3 linked regions of the Homo sapiens genome follow. The protein of the gene in region 2 interacts with the protein of the main gene of each other region in a pairwise test. Each region holds a gene or a part of one and is shown on either strand. Other genes may lie near its edges.

Region 1 (3,500 bases), about 36 Mb from region 2:
TTCCAAAAAGAAAGCTAATAAACCAGACATGTATTTTGACTTTTCGTTCTCTTCATTCTTTCCCACCAGGCTTGGGCACTGTTTAAAGGAAAGTTCCGAGAAGGCATCGACAAGCCGGACCCTCCCACCTGGAAGACGCGCCTGCGGTGCGCTTTGAACAAGAGCAATGACTTTGAGGAACTGGTTGAGCGGAGCCAGCTGGACATCTCAGACCCGTACAAAGTGTACAGGATTGTTCCTGAGGGAGCCAAAAAAGGTAGGGGCTCTCCTGAATTTGGGTCACCTAACAGAGGCAGCCAGATCCTTGAGGCACCTTAACTTCATTCTGAGCATCACTTTCTAGCTTTCCTTTTGTATTGCCTGCCTGCCTGCCTTCTGCCTCACAGTGAAGCCCAGCCTCCTTGCCTGAGTTATGTGGGTCACAAGTTGAAATTCCTGTGGGGTTCAGCATAGGAGAATTAATCACACTGTATGCCTCAATGTATATGGGGGGGGGTGCATTGAATATGTGTTTTCCAGTTAGTCTTTCAAAAAAAAAAAGAAAAAAGAAAACTGGATAACTTGTTAAAATTTACTTATCTAATAGTCTTTAGTGAGTGACTATTTTGCAGAAAAGGAGTAATGAGAGGAATATCTCATCACTATGCATGGTAATAAAACTGTCAACTTTTAAAGTGTAACATGGTCAGCTGAGGTGTTTATTAAAAGTCAGATTCCTGGACCCCTCTTTTCAAGATTCTGACCAGTGTGTCTGGAAGAGAGCTCAGGAATCTGCATCTGGAACAAATCCTTCAGGTGACCTCACTTGGGAAACATCTGGCTGGCGGGGTCCTTTATGTCACAAGGCACATTCGCATGCCATCTGTCATGTATTTCTTTACCTGTCCTGTACAACTCAGACCTTGTAGAAAAAAATCAGTTTAATAGCATGAAAAAATAACTTCCCAAGGGAGTTGCTGAAAAATACCTTATTTGTCAACACCGTGTTATGCATTCTAAGAATTAAATGCTCAGGTATTTTTACAAGATTTGACATTTAGTTAGGTCAGTTCCTGTTTTTACGTTGTGCCATTTCCCTTTTCCCCAAACATGTAGGAGCCAAGCAGCTCACCCTGGAGGACCCGCAGATGTCCATGAGCCACCCCTACACCATGACAACGCCTTACCCTTCGCTCCCAGCCCAGGTATGGTGGAGGGCACTGGGCTCCCTGAGGGCGAGGCTGTGTGGGCCAGCTGCCCACATGGCCAGAGAACCACAGCAGCCCAGACAGCAGAACTTGCCATTTGCTATGGCTGCTCCAACAGCCCAGAAAAACCCCAGGTCACTGAACGAATGTCTCACTTTCCACACGGTGCTGCCATTGGTGTGGATTTTAAGTTGGGGAGGGTCGGGCGTGTCCGCCTGTTGGAATATGCTTCTCAGGTCTTCTGGGAAACAGATGTTTTGTGGAAGTGGAAGATTTTGGAAGTAGTGCCTTATCATGTGAAACCACAGGGCAGCTGATCTCTTCAGGCTTTCTTGATGTGAATGACAGCTTTGTTTCATCCACTTTGGTGGGTAAAAGAAGGCAAATTCCCCTGTGGTACTTTTGGTGCCAGGTTTAGCCATATGACGAAGCTTTACATAAAACAGTACAAGTATCTCCATTGTCCTTTATGATCCTCCATGAGTGTTTTCACTTAGTCTGATGAAGGGTTCACTCCAGTCTTTTCGGATGATAAAATGCTTCGGCTGTCAGTCTAATAAGGGATTCCCTGAGGAGTTTGGAGGCTGTAAGAGCACCCCCCGTCTCAATGCCAGTGCTTCTTATCTCAGCCTCTCCTGCACTCCTTTACCCCCGTCTCGATGCCAGTGCTTCCTATCTCAGCCTCTCCTGCACTCCTTTACCCCCGTCTCGATGCCAGTGCTTCCTATCTCAGCCTCTCCTGCACTCCTTTACCCCCGTCTCGATGCCAGTGCTTCTTATCTCAGCCTCTCCTGCACTCCTTTACCCCCGTCTCAATGCCAGTGCTTCCTATCTCAGCCTCTCCTGCACTCCTTTAACCCCGTCTCGATGCCAGTGCTTCTTATCTCAGCCTCTCCTGCACTCCTTTACCCCCGTCTCAATGCCAGTGCTTCCTATCTCAGCCTCTCCTGCACTCCTTTACCCCCGTCTCAATGCCAGTGCTTCCTATCTCAGCCTCTCCTGCACTCCTTTACCCCCGTCTCGATGCCAGTGCTTCTTATCTCAGCCTCTCCTGCACTCCTTTACCCCCGTCTCGATGCCAGTGCTTCCTATCTCAGCCTCTCCTGCACTCCTTTACCCCCGTCTCAATGCCAGTGCTTCTTATCTCAGCCTCTCCTGCACTCCTTTAGCAGGTTCACAACTACATGATGCCACCCCTCGACCGAAGCTGGAGGGACTACGTCCCGGATCAGCCACACCCGGAAATCCCGTACCAATGTCCCATGACGTTTGGACCCCGCGGCCACCACTGGCAAGGCCCAGCTTGTGAAAATGGTAAGGAGGATACCAGTGCAGGAAATAGAAGAGCTAATTGCTAATGTGGCCATGGGCCATGGCGAATCCTGGTCTGTCCTGGGCAGCACCAAAGCTCTTTCCCCTTCTTAGAGGCTGCGTGTGCAGCTCGGGGAGAGGGGGGTTTTCTCACTCCTGTGGGATGGTGGCATCCCACAGCCAAGTTTACTCTCAGGATCCATGCTAGGCACTGCCCTTCGTGGGATCTTATTTAAACACCACAGAGATCACTCCAGGCAGTGGAAAACAGCCCCCCACTTTTTATATAGAGAGGAGATTGTGGAAGCTCATAAATAATAAGTAGGGATGCTGGGAGATTATTGAGCTGGTATATTTCTCTCGAATAGTGGTGTGTTCATTGTTGCTATTGTTGGAATTAGAGGTGATACTAAAAAAGGAACGGAAAAATACCATGGCAAACACATAAAACGTCTCTACAGGTGCCTACCTACCACTGGGTCCCAGAAAGACTTGCTGATTGTGGATTAGATGTGGTCCCCTGCCCTCGGGAGTTCCCCAGACATCAAAATGAGCTCCCTCAGCAGAAGCTCTCATTAGCTGGGTGCAGGGAGAATCTAGCAATGCGGTAACTCAGGCCTTCAGGACTTTTGAGTTAGTTACTTAAATGGAAGTCCTGAGACAGGTCAACACACTGAACCCTTTGGATGTTTTAGGAATATTTGTTCCTTTGCAATTTGGCCTTTTTTTCCCCAGTCATGTTCAGGTTATCCTTGGCTGCAGGTAGTGAAGAGGTGTACCACTCTTTAATGTTTGTACTGAGTGGCATGTTCACAAAAAAGCTCAGAATTCAGTTGCATTGGCTTTTCAAGAGGGATTTGCAGCAAGGGCTGGTTTCCAATATGGTAGTGGAGGAATTGGCTAACATAAAACTAGCTCCTGAAATTCAGACTTGCGTTTACTGCTCTGGCTCTATGGAATTAGTAACCATGGGAAAGAGGCAATGCTTAGAACTGTGTAAAG
Region 2 (3,500 bases):
TAAATGTTAAAATTAAGTTCATTTCCTGTGTTGCTTTGAGTATAAGGGAGCAGAGGCTGGTCTGGTCTTTATCATTGCCAAGGTGTGGCCTTGGACAGTTGCTTCTCTCTTCTGCCTCAACTTTCTTACCTGTAGAACTGAACCCAGTGAGCTCTGAGTCTTTACACCAGTGCAGTCATAAAATAGGATTTAAATTTATGTATTTTTTTGATACAGGGTCTCACTCTGTCACCCAGGCTGGAGTGCAGTGGCGCAATGATGGTTCACTGTGACCTCCCGGGCTCAAGCGATCCTCCCACCTCAGCTTCCCAAGTAGCTGGGACCACAAGTGTGCATCACTATGCCCGGCTAAATTTTCTTTTTTGTATTTTTGGAGAGACGGGGTTTTACCAAGTTGCTCAGGCTGGTCTCAAACTCCTGGGCTCAAGTGATCTGCCCACTTTGGCCTCCCAAAGTGCTGGGATTACGGGTGGGAGCCACCACGCTCAGTGTATTTTAAATATTTTTTGCCCACAAAGGCAAATGTGTCAAGGGCTCATGAAGTCGTAACGTAGCCCTGCTGAACACTATCCAAAACTTGGCATTAGGAGCGTAGCAGTCCCAGGCAAAGTGGAAACGTGGGGAGAATAAGCAGCCACTTGTCTGGCTACTGCCAGAAATAAAAACACATGCACTGAAGGTGAGTGTAGGAGGCTCCCTTTGTCCCCTGGGCTGTTCCCTGAGCAAACCTGATTCCAAGTTGGCACAATGGAGCAGAAAAGTTCAATAGCCAGACAGCCCGGCTGTGCCCCATGCTGCCTGTATGCGTGTGGGCTAGTCACTTAACCTCTGGGAGCCTCACTGCCTCATTTGGGAAACAATAACATCCCTTCCTTTTTTTTTTTTTTTTTTCTTTAGAGGGAGTCTCGCTCTGTCGCCCAGGCTGGAGTGCAGTCGCATGATCTCGGCTCACTGCAACCTCTGCTTCCCGGGTTCGAGCGATTCACCTGCTTCAGCCTCCCGAGCAGCTGGGACTACAGGTGCATGCCACCATGCCCAGCTAATTTTTGTATTTTTAGTAGAGATGGGGTTTCACCGTGTTGGCCAGGATGGTTTGAATCTCCTGACTTTGTGATCCACCCGCCTCGGCCTCCCAAAATGCTGAGATTACAGGCATGAGCCACCGCGCCTGGCCAGTAACACCCCTTTCATTGGGTTGTTCAGTCATTCAAGTACTCACTCAACATGTGTTTTCTGAGCACCTACTGTGTTCCAGGCACTGTTCTAGGTGCTGAATACACATAACAGTGTGCTCCAGCACGCCTAGTCCAGTGCTGGCACATAGTAGGTTCTCGTTAAACACTTGTTGAATGAATGATTGGAAAACAGGTGGTGGGGAGGTACCAACAATAAATAAGTGAATAAATACATGCTACATACATAATGACAAACACGAACACATAATTCTATCCAATGTAAAATGTAATTACAAAGAACGTAACATGCTAGGAAGGAAAGAAACAGGTGGCAGCGACAGAAGATGATGGGGGTTGGGGGCCAGGACAGGGGAGCATCTGCTCAGATGAAGTGTTCAGGGTGGGCTTCTTTGAGGAGGCCCGACGGGGAGTGATGGGACTGGTCCTTGCTGGTTGCAGGCATCCAGCCCGCACTGTGGAGCAGGGAGGACGTGCTGCACTGGCTGCGCTGGGCAGAGCAGGAGTACTCTCTGCCATGCACCGCGGAGCACGGGTTCGAGATGAACGGACGCGCCCTCTGCATCCTCACCAAGGACGACTTCCGGCACCGTGCGCCCAGCTCAGGTCAGGGAAACGCACAGGCTTTCCTCTAAGCGGGAACCCTGGTAGGCCAGGATGGCCCAAGTACCCCCGGGGGGCCCAGGGAGGGAGATGGAGGGGTCTTCCTTGGGGAATCATGCTCATTTCCAGCACTGCAGATGCCCCTCTGCATACGTGTGTATCTGGTGGTTCCTAGCTAGAGCAGGCCTTCAGCAAGGGAGTCCATTTGACCACTTGTTTTCAGAGCTGTAGGGGCCTGTTCTGCTCTCTCGCTTTCTCTTCCCTTTATCTGTGGCCCTTGTCTCCTCTATCCACTTCCATCCTGTTGCCTCCCACCCGCTACCCCTACTGAACAAAAAACCAACTAGAGAAAGATCAAATATTCATTCACACTGAGGTATAAATGGGTGGTAACAGCAAAATCCTTGACTTCCAATATGACTTTTGATTTTAACCAGAAACTAGGTCTGAGGGCAAAGGAATGAATGTCAGATGATGGTGTTCCAGCAGCACGGAGTTTGTGGGGAGGGACTGGTGGTGGGAGGGAGGGTGGCCAGTGGTAGCGGGCAGCAGGGCCTTCCAGGAACCTCTAGAATCGCATCTGAGTCTTGTGTGGCTTGTTTTCAGTGGCTCTTTTGTTTGTGCTGATTTGGTGTCTTTTTCTTAAGAATTCGCTCATGTTTTCTGTGTTCCTTGTCTTTTGGCCAAGCAAGCCCACAGTGTATTTGGCAAAGAGACGTTCTGAAATCTGCTGATTTGCCTGTTTATACCTAACACATACAGCCCAGTCTCATGTCACATCCCAAGTTCTTTTTTTTTTTTTTTTGAGATGGAGTCTCACTTTGTCGCCCAGGCTGGAGTGTAGTGGCGCGATCCTGGCTCACTGCAACCTCTGCCTCCCAGGTTCAAGCGATTCCCCTGCCTCAGCATTCTGAGTAGCTGGGATTACAGGCGCCTGCCACCACGCCCGGCTAATTTTGTATTTTTGGTAGAGATGGAGTTTTACCATGTTGGCCAGGCTGGTCTCAAACTCCCAACCTCAGGTGATTTGCCCACCTTGGCTTCCCAAAGTGCTGGGATTACAGGCATGAGCCACTGCTCCCAGCTGACATCCCAAGTTCTATCACCCACTTCCCACTGTGAGCCTCCTGTAGCAGCTGCTGGAACTTTCGTCTCTCTAAGAGCTTGGATTCAAGAGCTCTAGTGGGAGGTGAGGGGAGGGCAGGGACAGAGAGACAAGGCTTCCAGCTTCCCCACAGCCCTGATGGTCCTGCACTGAGGCAAAGCGGGGAAGCAGGTGAGCTTGGGGCTGGTCCCCTTCATGCCCTTGTTCGTCTCTCCACCTTCCTACAAGCACTCCTGGTCCTCGAGTGCCCACTGTCTACATTGTATCCCTCTGGCTGCCTGGGATCCCCAGATTGGCTCTCTACCCACAGATCCCCTCTTTCCTGCCCTACTATCAGCACCTTAGCCCAAGGTATGAGTCAAAGAAGATTTCTGGGACCAAGGACAGAGCCCAATTCTGGCTTTTTTTTTTTGAGACAGGGTCTCACTCTATTGCCCAGGCTAGAGTTTGGTGGCGTGAACACAGCTCACTTGTGCCTCAACCTCCTGGGTTCCAGTGATTCTCCTGCCTCAGCCTCCCAAGTAGCTGGGACCACAGATATGCGCACCATACCCAGCTGATTTTTAAAATTTTTGTAGAGACAGGGTCTATCCATGTTG
Region 3 (3,500 bases), on a different chromosome or scaffold from region 2:
GCTGAGGAGGCAGAAGCTGTATTATAAGGATGAAGCACAAAGTGTGAACAATTTGTTCTGTTCAATCCTACATAAGAAAAAAATGAGAAGAGTTTTCATTGGTCCGTTACTTACATCTTAGAAAGGATTTCTGAAATAAAAATGTATTTCTTTTTTTTTTTTTTTTTGATATGGAGTCCCACTCTGTCACCCAGGCTGGAGTGCAGTGGCACGATCTTGGCTCACTGGAACCTCTGCCTCCTGGGTTCAAGTGATTCTCCTGCCTCAGCCTCCTGAGTAGCTGGGATTACAGGCATCTGCCACCATACCTGGTTAATTTTTGTATTTTTGGTAGAGACAGGTTTTCGCCATGTTGGCCAGGCTGGTCTTGAACACCTGACCTCAGGCGATCCGCCACACTTGGCCTCCCAAAGTGCTGAGATTACAGGTATGAGCTGCTGCGCCCTGACTAAAAATGTATTTCTTGGCCTGGCATGGTGGCTCACGCCTATAATCCCAGCACTTTGGGAGGCTGAGGTGGGTGGATCACTTGAGCTCAGGAGTTTGAGATCAGCTTGGACAATGTGGTGAAAACCTTTCTCTACAAAAAATACAAAAAAATTAGCCAGACGTGGTGGCACATGCCTGTAACCCCAGCTACTTGGAATGCTGAGGTGGGCGGATTGCTTGAGCTTGGGAGGCGGAGGTTGCAGTGAGCCAAGATCAGGCCACTGCATTCCAGCCTGGGCGATAGAGTGAGACCCTTCCACAAAACAAAACAAAACAAACAAACACAATATATATGTATATTTCTCGAATATTAACTTTATTCAGGGAGCTGTTATAAAAAGGGCTAGATGGCCCAACAGATAGTTCCACAAAAGAACAACTGTTTTGCAGAGCAAAAATTACAATTAGCTAATTGCCTACCATCTTCTCTCACACTGTAGAACATACTGTAAATCCACGAATTTCCGCTTCCATTTTGTGAACTGGACATTTATCTAAGGATGTATATAAACAGTATTGGGTGCCGTGTGAGGGGCTGTACATGTTTCCTCTTCTGATCTGATCTTACAACACCCCCAGGACACTATGGCCACATCCAATTTTTTAGCTGAGGAGGTGGAGAGATTAAGCTATCTAACCAAGGTCACATAGTAAGTGAGTGGCAGAGCCATGTTGGAATCAGTTCTGTCTGACTCCAGGACCTGGGCCCTAGATTAGAGCTTCTTAAATGGGTGGAAACCTTTTAGACTGTGACCACAGTTAGAAATACCCTTTACAGTGAGATCCCATATACACACATGTGCACACACATACACACACACAACATAGATTTTCACTGAGCAATACTCTTATGACATGCTCTGCATGCTGACTTTTTCTCTCTATCCTATTTCATTTTTTAAAATGCTGATTGTGATGTACTAGATTGATTTTACAACCCACTGATGTGTCATGACCCACAGTTTGCCTCACTTTTAGCATTCAAACATGGTGACACCTTGGCTGTCTCCTCCAAACTCATGAACAGCCCAGAACTGGATTTAGTTGAATCTGTAATTCCAGTAGAAAGTTTGGCCTTTCCCCAGGGGAGACCAATCTGGGTTGGGGTCATTGTTCTTTGTGATACTGGATTTACTTTCTTTTGCCATGGTATGAAAAGTATTAATATGGAGAATACATTTGAGAAAAGGTATTCCATGAAGACAAATTCAGACACATAACTTTTTGTGTTCATTCATAACTAGTGTCTTGACACTGTTTGAAATCAATGTTAAGAAAAATCATGTGACAAGGTTGATCTATTACAGGAAAAACTGGTGATTTGGTTCATGTTTTAGAGAAGAAAGATGTAATTTCCATATCACTCATAAAAAAGAGGCATTATCAATTTTTTATTAAAAGATCATGCACCTCAGACTAAACCCCACTAAATGCTGGTTCGGGTCTTCTTTCCTTGAAAATGTTTCGTTTCAAAAAAGTGGCTTCACAAAGAATAGGTTTGTTTCCTTGTATCCCAAGCAAGTCCACGGAGACATCTTTCATTAGATGTCAGGGAGCAGTGTTACAATGGGTGGGGATAGGATTTTATAAAGAACATGGGCAGATGAAATGAAAACTTGCTGTGTTAGAGGTGGGATATACTTGTGTGACTGAACCGCTCCTTTCTCCTCCTTCTCCCTTTACTCATTTTCTAATTTCTGCATACCCACTGGGATCACAGCTACTTTTATGACCTCCAATGGGAGAATGTATTTCAATTTAAGTCAGTGAGAAGGTACTTTACGGAAAGTACTTTCTTCTCCCTCACCCCCAAACAAATGAAATTAGATTTTTAAAGTGGGTCCCTGGGAGAAAACGTTGCTGGGGAATCTTTCTGAGTATGAGTCCACCATTTTGAAGCCTTCTATTGATGGTGCCTTGTGTTATCTGCTTTCTATTTCTTTGAAAACATTTTCTGTGTGTTCTCAATGGCTGCTGATTTCCGAACAAGCCTCTCCTACCCTGTTGGCCTCTGTTTTGTCTCTTCTGAAGAAAATATCCTGCAAAATGGAGAAACACATCAACCTTGACTGTGATCCAAGTTATTAAAACAAGGAAGAAGTTATTCTCTGGGGACTCGGGTAGGGGGAGTGGGAAATCGAACACAATAGAAATGTGAAAGGAGTGCTCAGCAAAATGAATGTCCCTTTGCTGGTCCAAGAAGTTCACAGGCTGTTGGGAACACACAGTATTCAACCTGTGGATGCTTGAGAGGAAAAACAAAAAAGACTCAACAATGAGTGATGTGTGGTGAAAACAAAGCTGTGCGTTTTGGTAGGGCCAAGGCTGTCGAATCTGGAGAAAATCCCCGCTAGACATGGTCTCATCCCTGAGAACCTGTGCCAAAAGAGATAGCTGTCTTCTCTGGCTGGGAGCTCCAATACACAGCCCAGCACCTTCCCTCGCGGGCTCGTGAACATAAGGTATCCGTCCAAGAGATTTACTTCTTGGAAATAGATAGCTTGCTTTTAAGTGGCTCCCGGAGCCTGAGATGCAAAGTGAAGGTGGGGAGCCTCAGTTCTGTGAATATCAGCATTGCCGAGCCTACTCCATCTCCACCCCCAGCAACAAGTTATTAATTTTCCACCGTTTAAAGTTTCATTTAATGCCATTTAAAGAGTTTTTTTTCTTTATTATTGCCTTGCATTGGACTTGGCCTGAGGTCTGTTAACCCTGCCAACCAGAACGAAGAATGGGACTCCAGGGTTTGATAAAGATGGAGACTCGTGACTTAGCTCTGTGTCCCTCTCACTTAGTGTGGACTGATTCGGAAGCTTCTTTCCTTTGCTTCTCACTTTTCTGCTTCTTCTTTCTCCTCCCTGGCTGTTGGCCTTTTCTATCCTTTTATTTTTGGACATGCATTTGATGAATGTATTGAATTTTTTTATTATGTAAGTAATGTGTATAAATTATAGAACAGTTAGAAAATACAACTACGCAGAGAAGGAAATTAAAACTCCCCCCAAAAGCCT

The links.
Region 1: the proteins of ETV7 (region 2) and IRF4 interact in a two-hybrid assay, tested with the Homo sapiens proteins (one large-scale study listed by BioGRID and IntAct).
Region 3: the proteins of ETV7 (region 2) and WT1 interact in a two-hybrid assay, tested with the Homo sapiens proteins (one large-scale study listed by BioGRID and IntAct).

Annotation. Positions count from the first base shown.
Region 1 is NC_000006.12:394,752-398,251, forward strand, and holds part of IRF4 (interferon regulatory factor 4), read left to right. Parts: intron 1-69; coding exon 70-256; intron 257-1,095; coding exon 1,096-1,184; intron 1,185-2,356; coding exon 2,357-2,501; intron 2,502-3,500. UniProt on the Homo sapiens protein: Transcriptional activator. Binds to the interferon-stimulated response element (ISRE) of the MHC class I promoter. Binds the immunoglobulin lambda light chain enhancer, together with PU.1.
Region 2 is NC_000006.12:36,374,170-36,377,669, reverse strand, and holds part of ETV7 (transcription factor ETV7), read left to right. Parts: intron 1-1,634; coding exon 1,635-1,799; coding exon of another isoform or gene 1,800-1,840; intron 1,841-3,500. UniProt on the Homo sapiens protein: Transcriptional repressor; binds to the DNA sequence 5'-CCGGAAGT-3'. Isoform A does not seem to have a repressor activity. Isoform C does not seem to have a repressor activity.
Region 3 is NC_000011.10:32,411,540-32,415,039, reverse strand, and holds part of WT1 (Wilms tumor protein), read left to right. Parts: intron 1-3,500. UniProt on the Homo sapiens protein: Transcription factor that plays an important role in cellular development and cell survival. Recognizes and binds to the DNA sequence 5'-GCG(T/G)GGGCG-3'. Regulates the expression of numerous target genes, including EPO.